2 separate regions of the Homo sapiens genome follow, and region 1 is linked to region 2. Evidence: fine-mapped expression QTL. Tissue or cell type: B cells. Region 2 holds a variant in brackets; the other region holds the start of a gene. All regions are shown on one strand. Distances are between the middles of the regions.

What was found. PIP is the estimated chance that this variant, and not a neighbour inherited with it, causes the effect.
Region 1: RASSF8 starts here. The variant in region 2 is fine-mapped to the expression of RASSF8 in B cells (Fairfax 2012, PIP 0.95).

The regions. Positions count from the first base shown.
Region 1 is chr12:25,955,278-25,963,384 of GRCh38, reverse strand. It overlaps RASSF8 (Ras association domain family member 8), which reads right to left and starts at 4,703. Exons shown (of 6, transcript NM_001394098.1): 1 at 4,237-4,703. It overlaps RASSF8-AS1 (RASSF8 antisense RNA 1), which reads left to right and starts at 3,943. Exons shown (of 4, transcript NR_038228.1): 1 at 3,943-4,059; 2 at 6,621-6,746; 3 at 7,038-7,158. RefSeq lists silencers at 4,092-4,141, 4,282-4,331, 4,402-4,501, 4,602-5,091.
Region 2 is chr12:26,103,236-26,111,347 of GRCh38, reverse strand. No RefSeq gene overlaps it. Among named protein-coding and RNA genes, the nearest start is that of BHLHE41, 18 kb to the left of the region's middle. The variant T/A (reference allele first, on the strand shown) is at 3,982.

The DNA of each region.
Region 1 (8,107 bases), 150 kb after region 2:
CAAAGCTGTAAGCCTTCCTTGGCCTTGGAAGGTCATGAGACTTTTTTTTTTTTTTTTTTTTTTGGCTAAAACAAGGAATGCTTTAGTGAGAGAGAAGAAAAGAACTTCCAGACTTCTAGGTGGCTCCCACTTTTTTTAAAAAAAACTCCTCCTCTCTCTTAAGTGTATGGTCCAGTGATGTCTGGTTACCATGCAAGTCACATCAACAGCTGGACAGCACTGAGCATCCTTAGAACTCTAGGTCTTGTTTTTCTACTAAAGTTTTCCCAATCTTCCTTTGATGTCTGGCACCACCAGCCGACAGCAGCTGACTAACGTGTTATCATGTGACGCTCTGTAAAATAGTAAGGCACAGTAAGATTTTTTTTCCTTTCAGTAAGCTTATGCTGATAAAAAAATAATTATTTTAATGATGTATTTAGAAAAAGGATTATGTACAACAGAAAGTCACAAGGGTAACACTAATTAAAAGGTGTCTCAATTTATTACTACGAATATTTCACAGAACCTACATGCATTTTTACCTGATATTTGCAAAGGCCGTTTCATATTATACATATAACCAGCAAAGAAGGAATATAGAAAAGTGTGGGTCTGGCTTTTCTATCATGAAAAGCAAATTTAACAGTGATAAAGAAGGCAATCAAGATACAAATACAGAAGCCAGGCATGGTGGCACACACCTGTAGTCCCAGCTACTCAGGAGGCTGAGGCAGGAGGATCACTTGAGGCCAGGAGTTTAAGACCAACTGGGCAACATAGTAAGACTCCATTTCAAAAAAAAAAGATAAAGATACAAACTGATATTACGATCTTACTCATTATATCAACATATTTATTGAGCACCTACTACATATACTGGGCACTGGTGATTAAACCAGGTATTATCAACTTCATATTAACCTAAAGGGCAAGAAAAGGACCCTAAGTGATTAAATAATATATAAATTGTGGTAAATATTCAGAAGCAAAAGTGATTACGCTATGAGGGAGAAAATAAAGGACATTTAATTCGCATGACGATAAGGGTGGGCTTGTCAGAGAAGACCTTTATGAGAAAGGACATTTGAGCTAGCACCCAAGGATGATAAGTTACTCAAGGAGATGATCCTAAAATAGGGAGACCAACAGCATGAGCCACAGGCCTGAGGCTAGTCTGCTGGAGAACTGGCCAAGATGACAGCAAGAGATGCAAGTGGATGTAGAGATCAAATCATGCAGGATCCTGAAGTAATGTCAAGGATTTGGTATCTTATCCCAAAAATAAATAAATGTGTTTCCTGAGAGCCCTGACAACTTTAAGACGGCAAATACTTTTTCTTTTTTTTTTCAGGCTGCTGGTAGTAAAACAGACTGCAAGGGGTGCAGAGTGTGTGCAGGAGGCACCGCACCAAGGAAAAAGATAATACAGTACAGTGGCTTGCATTAGGATGGCAGAATAGTGGGGACTGAAAATCAGACCGGTTTGAAAGAGATTTTGCAATAAAAATGGACAGCAGGACTTTATGATGGACTGGTTTGCTAGGGCTGATAGAAGAAAAGAGAGAGTGGAGTGAGCTACTCCTTGGATGGATGAGATGAAAAATGGAGGGGGAACAGTTTGAAAGTTTGAGTGACCAAGAGCTCAATTCTGAAGGAGTTTGAGATGTTGTCATTTATTGGCTGAAATGTGCCAGGCACATCTAATATATATTAGATGTTCTACTCACCATAGCATCCCTTTAAGTAGTGGTATCCCCATTTTCCAGAAATGCAACTGTAGATCACAGAGGCTGAAGTGGCATGGCCGAGCTCACTCACCTCGGGAGTGACAAAGTCACACGTGCAACCCAAGTCTGGCTGGCAGTGGGGTAAACATTCTTTCCACTATACAGAATACTTGGAAACTCTCTCTACACTTTGAATTTTTAAGTCTATTTAGGGTTAGAGCAAGTTAGCATCAAAGAAGAGTAAATAAACGTTATATTATTTTGTAATCCAAATCTTTAATTTATGATGCATGTTTTTCTATCCAACTCCCATTCCCACTCCACTTTTACTTGCAAAGAGTTTTGTAATGTTTTGAACACTAGCAAGATATCTAAGATCTTAATGTTTTATAATAAAGGAGCAAAGCCATTATGCCAGGAATTAACCATAAGAAAAAGACAACAATATCCCACGGCAAACAATATTTTTACTTCCAAGTCATTATATACATCAACATAAAACAGATCAATTAATGAGTCAGAAACCCTGAAGAACTAATCATTTCTCAAAACACAAGGCAGTCAGGTCAAAAACTGACGTAAGTCACCACGTATAGAAGCCTACAAGAGCCAAACACTGAAGATTCAGGTTAAAAGGTTGCAACCTTAAAAAAATAAATAAAAGGCAAAACAAATTATACAACCATGTCGAATTTTAAATCTGTAATTACCAAATATCTGAACCAAATGCCAAATTCAGGAAACATGCATCCTATAAACAACTTAAACACTCTCTGTTCTTTGTAACTGTTTTTTCCAGAAGCACACTGACACTTCTGCAAAGTGAAGTGCCTTTCCTGCCTGCACAGCCCCATGATTTGCTCCCTCTCAGGGCCCTCTAATGCACCCCTAAGCTACTAAAGCCCAGACATAAGATTTGATCAATAAACCTAGAAAGAACTCAGTGCATTACTGCCAATTGTGTCCATCACAGAAAGTACCACCTGGAGACTCTTGAGGAAAAAAATGAGGAAGGGGGAGATTTTTGAAAGGTTTTATCATCTGTATTACAAATTATATTTTGTTGTACTTGATCCTTGAATAGAATAATCATCAAACTATGTTCAGTCTTCTTCAAGTGGGGGATGGTCATGTGTAATTTTATGGTTTGGGGAGTGTGCCTCATAGAGATAAATAAAATTAAAAGTACCATTAGTATGCCCGCTAAAAGATAAAACTCACACAAACCACTTCCCCAAATGATAGTGCTGTCTCCTGCGTCCTGATTTTTGCGTCCACCCTGCACCTCTCCCTGCAGAAAGCTGGCTGGCATTCACTACCGCCTCACTCTGGCAAAGGACAGGATGTCGAAAACCCATTAAGAAAGCTTCTCATTTTCTGTTCCTTCATAACATGATGGCAACTCCTGGCAACTCCAAGATGAAAGGCAAAAAAGAAAATAAAAACTACCTGGGGCCCCCTACCAGAATGAGTGGTTAATCTAATGGAGAGAAAAGCAGAGATTTATACATATTTTAAAATGCTTCCTGGGGACAAAGCAGATCTAATGAATTGCTGAGCCACAATCTACTGGAAAATCCATAAATGTTCGTCCCTGCTGTCACAGGGCTAGAGGATTTTTTTTTTTAATGAAATGCTTTAATGCTAACCTGACAGGGCTAACCTGACAGGTTTAAGTCAGCTATGAGACGTGATTTGCATTCATTTCGCTTCTAAATCCCTAAAGATCAGCAACAATATTGACCCGCAATTATATATCCTACGTTGCACTGTTCAAGATGCCATTTGAGGCTGGGAAAGTAGTGGTTTAGCAACACCAGGCGGCTCTATGATGCTAAAATAACAACGCAACACTGGATTCCGAACCCAAGTACTCATCTTTTAAAACCCAGTGCCGCACCAGGACCCACATTCAAAGCTCGCGTCCCTTCAAGTTGAATCTTCCGGCTTTGTGCGATTTACCCTCTCAAACTTTCTAGTTTGCAAGTCAGAATTACTTTGAACGTCCCCTCTTCTGGACTCCCCTCCCCAAAGGGACTGGCGGCAAAGGAGAATAGAATGCAGATGGTTAATAGTTCAAATGAAATTTAAAAACCTATAAACCAATATTTTTTTAGAGGAGAAAAGCGTTCACCAAACCGCCACCCGGCAAGCGAGCATCCGATTTCCATCCGGAGGAAAAAATATTTTAAAAACCAGACATAAAATTCCCTTTGCAAGAAAAGTGGCCTCTAAACTCCCTTGCCAAGGACACTGGGAGGAAGCAGAAAAGCAAAGACCAAGCTCGTACTTTTCAGTCCGCGGCTTGTGTGCCGCGAGGAGAGGCGCAAAGGGTGACACACCAGGAAAGGTGAACGCAGAGGGAGCGGGAGCCCGCGGCGGGGCAGGGTGGGGGCGGAACGGACGAGGTACCCAAGGTGCGGAGAGAGGGGCAACCGGGCGGAGGGCAGCTCCGAGGCTGCAGGCGGGACGGGCGGGGTCCCCGGCGCAGCCCGGATCGCCGCCGCTAAGTAAAGTTAATACTTACTCAGTTTCGCAACTGCGCCGCCCCCGCAGGCCGCCCAGAGGGGCCGGCCGGGGCGCTGGGGACGCGGCGGCACCCGGAGCTCCGCGGCCGCCCAGCGCCCGTCCCCGCGCCGCACTCCCCGGCACTCCCCGGCGCTCCCCGCGCCGCGCGCCCCGCACCGGCTGGAGGCCCCGGCCCCCCGGCGTTCCCTCTCCGCGCACCTCCCGGCCCGCGCTAGGTGAGTGTGGACGCCACTGGCGGGGGTGCCGCGGTGCGCGAGCGCTCGGCCAGCGGCAGAGACGCCGCGGGAGCCGCCCCCAGCGCCAACGCCGCCGCGGGCGGGAAGGGCGAGGCTCGGCGAGGCTGGGCGAGGAGCTGGGCGGCAGACGCTGAGCGGGGCGCGGCGCGGGGCGCCGGACGAGCGCGGGCGTAGGAGGAGCGCGGGCGTAGGAGTCGGCGACCCGCTCGCTCCCGCGGCCGGTGCCTCTGGGCTGGGGGCCGGGCTGGGGGCCGGGCCGGGCCGGGCCGGGCCGGGCGGCCAGGCGGCTCCGCCCCTTCGCCGGGCAGCGGCTGAGCGCGCGAGAGGAGCGGCGCGGGGGCGCCCCCCTCGGCCGGGCGCTCGGGTTTCAGCCGCCGCTCCTCCGCGCCCCGCCCGCGCCTGGCCCGCTCGCCGGCGCCGGGAGAGACCTCGTAACGGAACTGGGACGCCAGCGCTGCATTGTGGGAGCTTTTAAAGCGGCGGGGAGCTCGGCGCGACCCTCGGGCCCACCGGGCCACGCTCGCCCGGCCCGCGACGCCCCCCCGCTGTCGCCTGGCCCGCGACGCACCGAGGCCTGAGGACCCGAAAGCCGGGCGCGGGGAGATGACCGGTGGCTCGTGACGGTCCCACGGGCAAAATCTTCCATCGCCCGGGGCTGAGACTTGTCAAACTGCCCTCTACGGTCACCCGGAAAGTAGGAGGCTTTTTCTGCAGAGGGGAAAAAAATCAAAAAGAGCCGTTCCATCCCCCCTCCAAGGACTGGGTTTGAATTGCTTTTCATCTGCAGTGGCTGTGATTCAGCGTCCCTCTTAGCAGCAGGCAATGACAGAGGCAGGAGAGGGGAAAAAAAAAAAGAAAGAAAGAAAAAACACAGCAAATGAATCAAACGGACGTGAGTAACAAAAGTTTAGAAAGAGCTGGGCTCGTATTCAGAAAAAACGCCTCATCCCCCCGCCCCGCTGCACTCCCAACCCCTTTAAAAATAGCAGATAATCAAGAAAGGAAACGGGTGCTTTCATATGGAAATACAGATGTGTATGTTGTTTTCAATATTCTACTGTTTTTTTGTGTGTGGCATGCAATTACTCAGGCACTGGGCAAAATTCAGCCTTTGGATTTTGTGGTCACACATACCCCAACTCCGCAACAGCTATTAATTTGCAGGGCGATGGGGTGCGGATAGTGGATGAGATACAAGAAAGCATTCCAATTAAAATGCCCCCCCCCACCCCGCCTTTTAATTTTCCAGACACTTGCTTTTATTTTTCTTTTTTTAAACATCATCAAAACAAGAATATTAAACTTGAAGCAGAATTTGTTACAGCGTATCTGACTCAGGACCTGATTTAAGGTTTGGGGTTTTTTGGCCCTTTGTTTCTTCCTCTTGTTTTTTGACCTTTAGTTACTCCACACCTCATTAGTTCCTTGACCTGCAGGTGGACTGAGAAGAGAGCCATGGTAAGACTCAAATTTGTCAAATCAACATTTGGAGAGGAGAAAGTTCACTGTGATTCAAATGCAAAACCAAAGGGAATATGATTTAAAAGTCAACCTGGAGGGCATGGATCCTCCCTTAACCCTACTTGACTCTTTTCAAAGGAGTTGCCTAGCCTTAAGGTGAATGTTTCCTAACCTCTCATTCCCTTCTCAGCCTTTCACTCCACTGAACAACATCAGCCATTGCTTAATTGCCAAATCTAATGGAAAAATTTAATTCCCATCTTGTGCCCTTTGTGGCATTTGCCAATGTTGACCTCTCCTTCTTAGAACTTTCTGCCTTTTGGCCGGGCGCGGTGGCTCATGCCTATAACCCCAGCACTTTGGGAGGCCAAGGCTGGCAGATTGCCTGAGGTTGGGAGTTCGAGACCAGCCTGACCAACATGGAGAAACCCCGTCTCTACTAAAAATACAAAATTAGCCGGGCATGGTGGCACATGCCTGCAATCCCAGCAACTGGGAGGCTGAGGCAGGAGAATCGCTTGAACCTGGGAGGCAGAGGTTGCAGTGAGCCGAGATCACGCCATTGCACCCCAGCCTGGGCAACAAGAGCGAAACTCCATCTCAAAAAAAAAAAAAAAAAAAAAAAAAAAACTTTCCTCCTTTCTTTGGCTGTGGTAGTGATCCCTCTTTTGTGTACTTCTTGAAGCAGGTAGCAGGCAAGAGTGTGGTTATCGTTGGACCAGGATTCAGGATCTGACTGAGTAGCTGACTCTTAATCCAGTTTGTGTTGATCACCAGGAGGATCTGGACCTCAGTATTACCACATCTAGAGGTGAGCAAGTTGACTGACTCTTGATAACTAACTCTTATATGATGAGCATTTATATCAGGACAGAACTTCCTGATTGGATAACAATACCTACTATTTAGGAAAAACCCTTCCTAAAAATCCAGGTATCCTCACCTCCAGTCTTACTGATGGCTGCCAAAGTCAGTGAATTTGCCTCCATTCAGTGCTGGATAAGTGCAGAAAAATCTTTACCCTACCTAGCCCATTTGGTTAATGCGTTCTTTCTTCAGAGTGTAGTACAATTTGTTTTAAGCTTTTTTTTTTTTTTGGTAGCTATAATCACATCCCTGTTAAGCCTTCCTGAGATCACACCAAATGTCCTTGATGGGAATTGTAAACAACCCTTACTTCTGGTTTCTAATGATATTCCAGGAAAGGAGCCTAACTAGAGTCAGTGAGTATTCATGCACTTCAAACCCTGTGACATAATAAGATTTGATTTTTAAGAAAACAACTTGAGAGGATGGATTCAGAAAAGAGGCAGATCCAAGGGAGAGTCTAAACTGGAGAGCAGTGGCAATGAACAGGAGGAGGCCATATCGAGAGATGAATTGATCATCTTATAGACCTGGAGGTCAGAAATCTAAAATCAAAGTGTGGGCTGTGTTCCTTCTGGAGGATCGAGGGGAGAATCCATTTCCTTGCCCTTTTCAGCCTCTAGATGCCACCTGCATTCCTTGGCTTATAGTCCCTTTCTCTATGTTTAAGGCCAACTGCATAGCATCTTCCCCCATTTCTTTGTAACTTCTGCTTCATGGTGATGGGGACATCTCTCTCTCTGATCGTAGGAATTGATTTAGATGCTTTTCTAGCCATATGTATTATGAACTAAATGCAGTTGAATTACTTATGGGAGGAAATGGCAGGTGACCTCATTACTTGTCAAATCATCGTTAGATAACTGACTTGACTGTTAAGATTGCTGAAGCAGTGATTTATTACCTCAGCTAAATCTGTATCAATCTGGTGACCCGTGTAACTGAAACCAAGATGTTAACACTGTAAGAAAACCTAGCTTATGTTTGCAGCTCCTGAGAATAAATCCCTTTATCTTGAAATACCTGGAAATCCCTTTTTAATGTCCAGTGGAGTCATATTGCCAAGTTTGAGAAATGTGTCTAGACCAGTATTTCCCAAACAGCCCACCAGACAACACCAGCCTGTAAGATGGTGATATTGTTTGGATGTTTTTTCCCTCCAAATTTCGTGTTGAAATGTGACCGCCATGTTGGAGTTGGACCTAGTGGAAGGTATTTGGGTGATGGGGAATCTCTTGTGTGGCTATGTACCTTCCCTGCAGTAATGAGTTCATGAAAGATCTGGATGTTTAAAAGAGTCTGTGA
Region 2 (8,112 bases):
AGGCGCTGCCACCATGCCCAGCTAATTTTTGTATTTTTAGTAGAGACAGGGTTTCACCATGTTGGGCAGACTGGTCTCGAACTTCTGACCTTGTGGTCCATTCGCCTTGGCCTCCCAAAGTGCTGGGATTACAGACGTGAGCCACCGCGCCCAGTCAATTAACTTTCTAAACACAGAAGGTATACTAAAGCATAGTATACTTCATACAGTCATGAAGAATGTGTGAAGGCTTAAACCTTCCCTTCTGGTTTCACTCTCTTCCATTTCCTTCCTTGTCCTGTTTTCCCCCACCGAAAGATGAGCATCTAATGGCCTAGTTGCACGGAACTACTGCAAGTTCCCTGAATATGCTTTGCACTCTCAAATGTTTGTCTTTAGGTAGATTAACTTACATTTGGATACCTCCTACTCATCCTTCAAAACTCAGCTCAAATTGCACCTCCTCTGTGAAAACTTCCATAACTATTTTAGTCAAAACTTAACCTCACCCACTTCTTTACTCTTAGCCCTTTCTTTAAATCTCCATTTTGATGTTTAACATCTTATTCCACAAACGTGCATGTACAAGAAGTGATGGATATTCTTATTTTCTCTCATTAAGTCTGACTTCACGCTACTTCCCCAAGGGCTGTTGGAAAATGATCTCAGTCATTGTGGACTCTCCTGTCCCCCTCCCCTCCCCAAACTCTCTAGGATTTTCACAAGGACTCGGGATTTCAGGAACCAGGGGAAGGACCCCTTCTTTCTCAGACTGCCCTAGATAATTGTCAGTGTCAGAGCCTGCTGTTTGGTATCCTTGCCTTCTCTGTCACTTTCTAGGTAGGAGTCTTTGCTGATGCTGGAAGTCCTAGGCCTTTGGGGCATTGTGTCCCTATTCCCCTCCTGGGCTTTGCCACGCCCAAGGAGCTGCACACCTGTGCCCCACTGCTTATTGCTTCTGCCTCCACTCCTTCCCCCTAACATAATTTCCAGCTTTATTTAGAGAGGGCTGCAGAGACCAGGCAGCTAACCTGAATGAATGGTATTGGCAGAGAAAATGGTAGGGACCAGAGTGAACTGGAGGTTGCGCCTCCTTTAAAAGGGACAGACATTACTCAGCTCCAAGCAATTGCAGCCTGGTGAAAACGTAGGCCCAGTATTGCGAGATCATCCAATTTTTCCAGGAAAAGCTGAAATCTAGATTTTATGTGAAATCTACTTTCAAAATGTTGGCAATTATTTTTGAAAACTTCAAAACACTATTCATTACAAATGAAATCTATCTGTTAAAGTATTATTCAATCTGGAGAAGGCTGCTTTGAGACCTCTGCTATAAAAAAGAAAAAAATAAAGGGCCTGGTAGGAGGTTTGCTTCAAAACTCCCCTGATGTAACTAGCCCCAGAGCCATTCTTGAAAATGGTTGAGGGGGGAAATGCAAGGAGAACAGACAGAGAGTAACGTCTCAGTAAATCATCCTGTCACATTGAGACTCTTCACATTGTATTGTAATTAATTGTGTATGTCTCCAGCACCTGGACGCCCTAACAGTCCTGTCAGGCAGATTGGCACCACCTCCAGCCTTCGCTTGGCCTGCACTGCTGTCTGTCAGACTGTTTACTTGTTCTTAGCTCCTTCTCGAATTTCCTTATGACCCTCCCAGACCTCTCTCTCCCACTTACCCAAGACCTCGGCTTATTTCCAGACTCCTCTCTCTCAGGAAAACCCCTATTTCACCAAGAAAATTCTGCCAATGGTCATGCTTTCCCCAGCTTTCAGCCCTCCCTGCTTTCCTCCTCCCGTGTCCTCACTTTCCTTCCAGCTGCAGAGGAAATGTGACCCTCCTCCTGCTCAAAGCCAAGGCTTCCACTTGTGCCGTTGGTGATGCATTGAAACTACCTGTTAAAACTTCCCTATCCGCCGCATGTAACAAGTCTGGACCTCTGTTAAGAGAGATCTGTTGTTCATTCATCATCGCATTCCTGGAGTCTAGTACGCTGCCTGGGACAGGGAAGAGGCTCAATAAACATTTATTGAATAAATACCTTTTTAAAAACTCTGGAGGCTGGGCCAGTCCTTAAACTTTCTAGAGACACGAGACAACTGTTGAAACCTGAGTTTTCATAGGTTATTGATCTCGAGAGGGTAGTTCCCCTGACTCTGTGCATGGGCTAAATTTGGAGGAGATAATCCAGGAGGGAATGTAGCTGGCAGGCCAGGGAGTTTCTCCTGGGTCAGGTTGGTGCCATCCAGCTGTGAGTTTGCTGTATGAAACCTCCTGTCTGTCTTCTCTGGTTACTGCTGGTGAGGCTGGCATTCTGGTACTTGCTGAGGGGAGCAAAGGGGAGCCTCCATGACCAAGGTGTCACATTGCTCTCTGTCCTCTTGGGTTTTTACCCCATTAAGACACCACTACTCCATTAAAAGATTATTTTGGGGGAAAAGACAGATAAGCTCCAAGCCCTCTTACTCCTTGTATGTTTTCTCTTCTTTTTACTTCTAACTTAAACTTTTTTTTTATGTTTGATGATATCTTAACATCCATATAAATCATCTGATTATTTTTATCTTTAATCCTACTCTCATGAAGGATTAAAGTATCTCATGTCCTATTTTAAATCTTACCTTATTACCCTGTTGGCTTTCAACCTTTACTTACTTAGAATATCTGCTTTAAATTATTTCATAACTGACCTCATTTTTAACTTTGACCTTAGTTATTTTAACCTTCTAATTTTCTTTTTAAATTTATCTTCTTGCTCCAACCTTTATTCCATTTATCTTATAGCTCATACTTCTGTTTTATTAGGGCTTTTAAAAATAGTTTTCTTGGTTTAAAATTTGGCTTGTTACTCGTTTAAAATTTTTTATTCTTATTTCTTAATTTACAGCTTTTACTTGGTTTAAAGTATTCTAGCATCATTTAGCATCACATTCTAATCTTTTATTTTTTCTTCCTCTCTTTTTTGGCACCATAACTTTTTTTTTAACCCTTTTCTCTTATTTACAAGTCTGTCATTCAACCTAGCTCAAATAATGACTTGTAAGAAGCCCATTGAATACAGGAATCTTCTTTGCCCTTGCCCTTCTTTCTGCCAGTCACCACTATAACTAAATTTTTTTTGCATTAATGTTGCTTTTTGCCACAGCATTCTATGCAGTCTTTATTTTTACATTGTCTGGTTTAAAATCCATAGTCTTTAATTTTTTTTGGTTGCAAAGAACAAACCCATTTGATTGTAACAAATGCATAAATAAGGAAACCAGAATCTCAGTCACTAGGTAGGCCAGGCATCCTGTCAATCCTATGAAAAGTCCTCAGGAAGAGCTGAAAGTCTTGTGGAGTTAGGCCTCACAGGCACAAGAACAAAAAAGGGTTCAGAGGCAAATGCAATATCAATGTGGGAATCGTTATTTTATGGCTTAACACATGTAACCTAACTATATCTGAATTTCAAAGATAAGAAGAAAATCATATTAACATCCAAGGAAAAAGAAGCAAGCCACTCAAGAGGGAAACAATGGCCATGTTCAGGTATCCCCAGATTCCTCCAAAGCAATTCTTATTACAGAAGGCAGAGGAGCAGGATTTATACCATTGCTACTCAAAAGTGTGGTCCATGAACCAGCAGCATTGGCATCGCCTGTGAGCTTATTAGAAATGCAGAATCTCAGTTGCCATTCCAGATCTACTGAATCAGAATCTGCATTTTGACCAGATGCAAAGATGATTCCAATGGACCAAAGCACATTAAAATTTGAAATGCACCAGCCTATATAGTTGTGAGAGAAAGAAAAAAGTGATGCATTTTTTAAAAAAATCCAAGGAGTTCCTTTAGTATAAAGGCAACAAACCAACATTCTCAAATCAACCCTGTGTTTTTGAACTTCACTTGCAACTTTCTTTGGTTTTTCTTTGCCCCACTAAGAGAGCCTGTTTGTGTAATTTATTTGAGATTGGAGATATTCATTTGCATATTAGACTCACTAGAGGAATTTTTTTT[T/A]AAAATACTGTTGCATGGATCTTACCCTCAGAGAACCTGACTGAATTGGTCTGGGATGATGCCCAAAAGTCAGTAGTTTTTCAAAAGTTTTCAAGTTCATTACGATATGTGGCCAAGGTGATAATCATGGAACCAAGGGAGACCAAATCCACGAAGCTTTCTTGAAAAAAGTTACTGAAAGATGGACACCAGACAATAAAGAAAGGAATCAAAATACAGTACTCAGAAAGGAAGGAGCTGTGGTAAGCAGTAATAAGTGAGTCAATTTAAAAAAACTACAACTAAATAACTGGGAATTTTTGTTAAAGAATATCACAACTGGGGCTTTAGATGGCAAATATGCTGTTCTCTACCCCCTACATTTCTATTTATGTTTGGTGCACCCTTACTAAATCTGTTATTCTCTGAGTTTTACGTCATCAGTTCTCTGGGTTTCAAACCAATGACTCTTGGGCCACATCCCTCATTTTACGCACCTTATCACTGGCAGGTTTTCCCTTGGCTAGGAAACTGGACAGTGGAAATGGTGACTTTGCCTGTCTGCTCTCAAACCGGGCTTCTGAAAGGGAGCCAGAAATATGGGCTGGGGGAAGGCTAGGGAAAGCCTAGTGCAATTATATTGGAAGTAGAGGTATTAGTATGAACTCATAATTTTATTTCTGTAACCTGCACAGCTCCCATCTCCCTGGGACCTTGCCTTGCAGATTCTGGCACTTCAGCTGCCCCAACCTCTGATCTCTTCCTCCTCAGTTCAGAGGGACTGCTGTGCTCTGCGTGCATTCTGGATCACTACTCTGCAGTTAGGAAAATTTCCCCAGGCAGGGAGCCAGGCTCATCATGACGTTCACCTCTTAGGTTTCCCTGCCTTCAGGGATTGATTGCAGTCTTGCATTGCCTACTCTGCCTCGTATTGCTTGTTCGCCAATGTCTGAAAACACTTGCCTTTGATATTTCATCCAGTTTTACAGTTAAGGCAAGAGGACTAGTCCCAGATACTCCATCAGAGACAGAAGTGGAAGTGCTGGTCTCTATATTGGATAATAGCATTATATTAATATTAAATTTCCTGAAATTGGTCATTGTACTATGAAGATGAAAGAATTGCTTGTTCTTAGGGTATACATGATGAAGTATATGGGACAAAAGGTTATGATGTCTTCAATTTACTCTCAAATGTTTCAGTTCAAATAGTCATATGAATAGCAATAATATGTATATTTGTAGAGGGAGCAGGAGAGATCTTGATAAACCACATATGGAAAATGTTATCAGTGGTGAATCTAGATGAAGTGTATATGGGAATTCATTGTAGGATTTTTGTAACTTTTCTGTAAGTTAAAAAAAATTTTTTCAAATAAGGAATAAATAAAGCATCCCCTTCAGTGTGGACTGGACTTAATGATTCATTTCTAAAGATTAGAGTAGGGAAAAAAATAGTAACTTTACGGTGGAGAAAGTTGACAGACACCACCTTAAACAAGTGATATTAACCAAGTGATCATGGTTAATATCACTAGTGATAAGTCAGGTGGATATCATGTACCCATTTATATTAAGTGATGCAAGGGCATGTCACCTCTGTGATTTTCTCACTCACAATTTATAACCCAAATTGGCCAGGTGCTGTGGCTCACGCCTGTAATCCCAGCACTTTGAGAGGCCAAGGCGGGCGGATCACTTGAGGTCAGGAGTTCGAGACCAGCCTGGCCAACGTCGTGAAACCCCATCTTTACTAAAAATACAAAAATTAGCTGGGCGTGATGGTGAGCACCTGTAATCCCAGCTACTCAGGAGGCTGAGGCAGGAGAATCACTTGAACCCGGGAGGCAGAGGTTGCAGTGAGCCAAGATCGCGCCACTTCACTCCATCCTGGGTGACAGAACAAGACTCTGTCTCAAAAAACAAAAAAAAATTATAGCCCAAATTAAAAACTGAGTGTCCTTAATATACCTTTCCTTAGATACCCTTTAAAACTGGGTACATATTAGCCATTTCATTTTCTTTCTACCTACATAAGACGCATCCATCTCTAGAGAAATGAGGATATGTGTTTATGAATTTTATTTCAATTTTAGAGTCCAGAGAAATTTATGACATTTTTATAATACAGTGATTTTTTTAAATGTGTAGTCCCATTTTAATACCAATGTCAGTGTTACTAAATAAATGCCATTCATAACATTTAAAGAAGGAAGAAGAACTCCACATATCTGGCTTTGAAGGTGGAGGCCGGGGGCCAGCACTAAGGAATGCAGGAAGTCTCCAGAAGCCAGGAGCAGCCTTCAGCTGACAGCAAGGAAACAGGGACCTCCGTCCTACAAGGGAGCCTCCCCTAGAGCCCTTAGAAGGGAACACAGACTGTCCTCTTCGATTTTAGAATCATCTTGATTTTAGTTTGATATGACTCACTTTGACTCTCTGACCTACAGAATTATAAGAAAATGAATCTGTATTGTCTTATGCCACATGAAGTGTATATGGGAATTCACCCTATATATACTAAGCCAGTAAGTTGTGATTGTTATGGCTGCAATAAAAAATGAATACACTAGGCCTCACTGAGATAGTAGGAAAGTCTTGAAGGAGGTGAGAAAGGGGGCCATGAGGAAATCAGGGGGAAGAGTGTGCCAGGCACAGAGAACAGCAAGTGCAAAGGCCCTTGCTAGGAGCATGCACAGCACAACCAAGGGACAGTCAGGAGGCCAGTGTGCCTATGATAGAGTGAGCAAGGAATAGATTTTAGGAGAAGACATCAGCATAGGAGGATTTGCCTTCTCTGTTGTGAAATCGGACTGATTGCACTTCCTACCCAAGCTGGGAGGAGGAGAACCACCTTGCCCTTTATCTGATTGAGAAATTAGGTGCTCAGCCCTAAATCCTGTCCCCCACTGCCCAACTCCGTTCACTCGAATGGTAGTTTTGAAGCATCCTCATTTGTTTGGCTACTTCACCAATAAGGCCAACTCTTATATAGTTGGCCCTACCAGCCATCTCCAAATCACCCATTTCCAGGACATGGTTATCAGACCTGATGAGGTGGCTTGCTGTGGCTCTGCCCACTTTGAAGGTCAGCATGGCCATACTCCTTTATAAACAGTAATCTTTCTTATACCTGCCTCTCGGAGATTAGGATTCCTTTCCTGAAAGTTGGTTACAAGAGCCCCGATGTGCTGGTTTTTCTCATAGGATTTAGCATCAACCTGCAAAACATATGGAATTTTCAATATTCAACTCTTCACATTGTGGTTTTAGGCGTTTTATCTTTCTGGCTTTGGAGAATAGATATTTTGGCAGATGTAAAGGTGATTGGCTGTCTCTACATCTGTCAAGCTCCAAAGCACTGTTACCAAGCATCAGAGACCATATTTCAGGGAATATTTTCCTTCTATTTTAACTGAGTCTGTGATAAACTGGATGTGATTTGCCTTAATATTGACAGTTTCTGCCCAAAGCACATGTGATTGGTTTGGGTTGAATGACCGCCACCCTTTCTCTCATGATGGGAGAATATGTGCTCTCCAGCTTGTACAGAGAACAAAGTAATTGAACCAGAATAGGATGAAAAGAATGTCTCCTTATTTCTATTTTTGTATTCTCCTGAAAGTCCCCAAGTTGAATACTTCTGATGTATTTACATTTATTGTTCCTGTTCTTGAAATTGATGTAGGGTGGGCATTGGGTCCTGGCTAATTATTAATTTAAGTACCCCCAGTACCTACCACCGTGTCTAGCATCCAGTAAATATTTTTAAAATTAATTCACTCAACCATCCCCTCATAAAATGAACAGCCTTTCTACATTTTTTATGTCTCTAATATTGGAAATTGGTAACATTTGGTGGCATTGACCATTTATTATGTACCCGATAAAAGCATTCCATTATCCTTTAATTCATTGGTTGAAAATAGTTTGGAGGAAGTGTTAGCTCATGAGAATAATATACTCTTAATTTATTAAACATTTATAGTAAATTAACAGAAAAACTTAAACAAAATTTAAAAGTGAGCCCAAAGGGATGAATTGATGAAACATTTTATCATGTTTTATAACTGAAAATACAGTCTCCTAGATAGATACATTCAGTACCCTGTGGGTGAGGAGATGTGGTAAAATGGGTGTGAAGTAACTGAT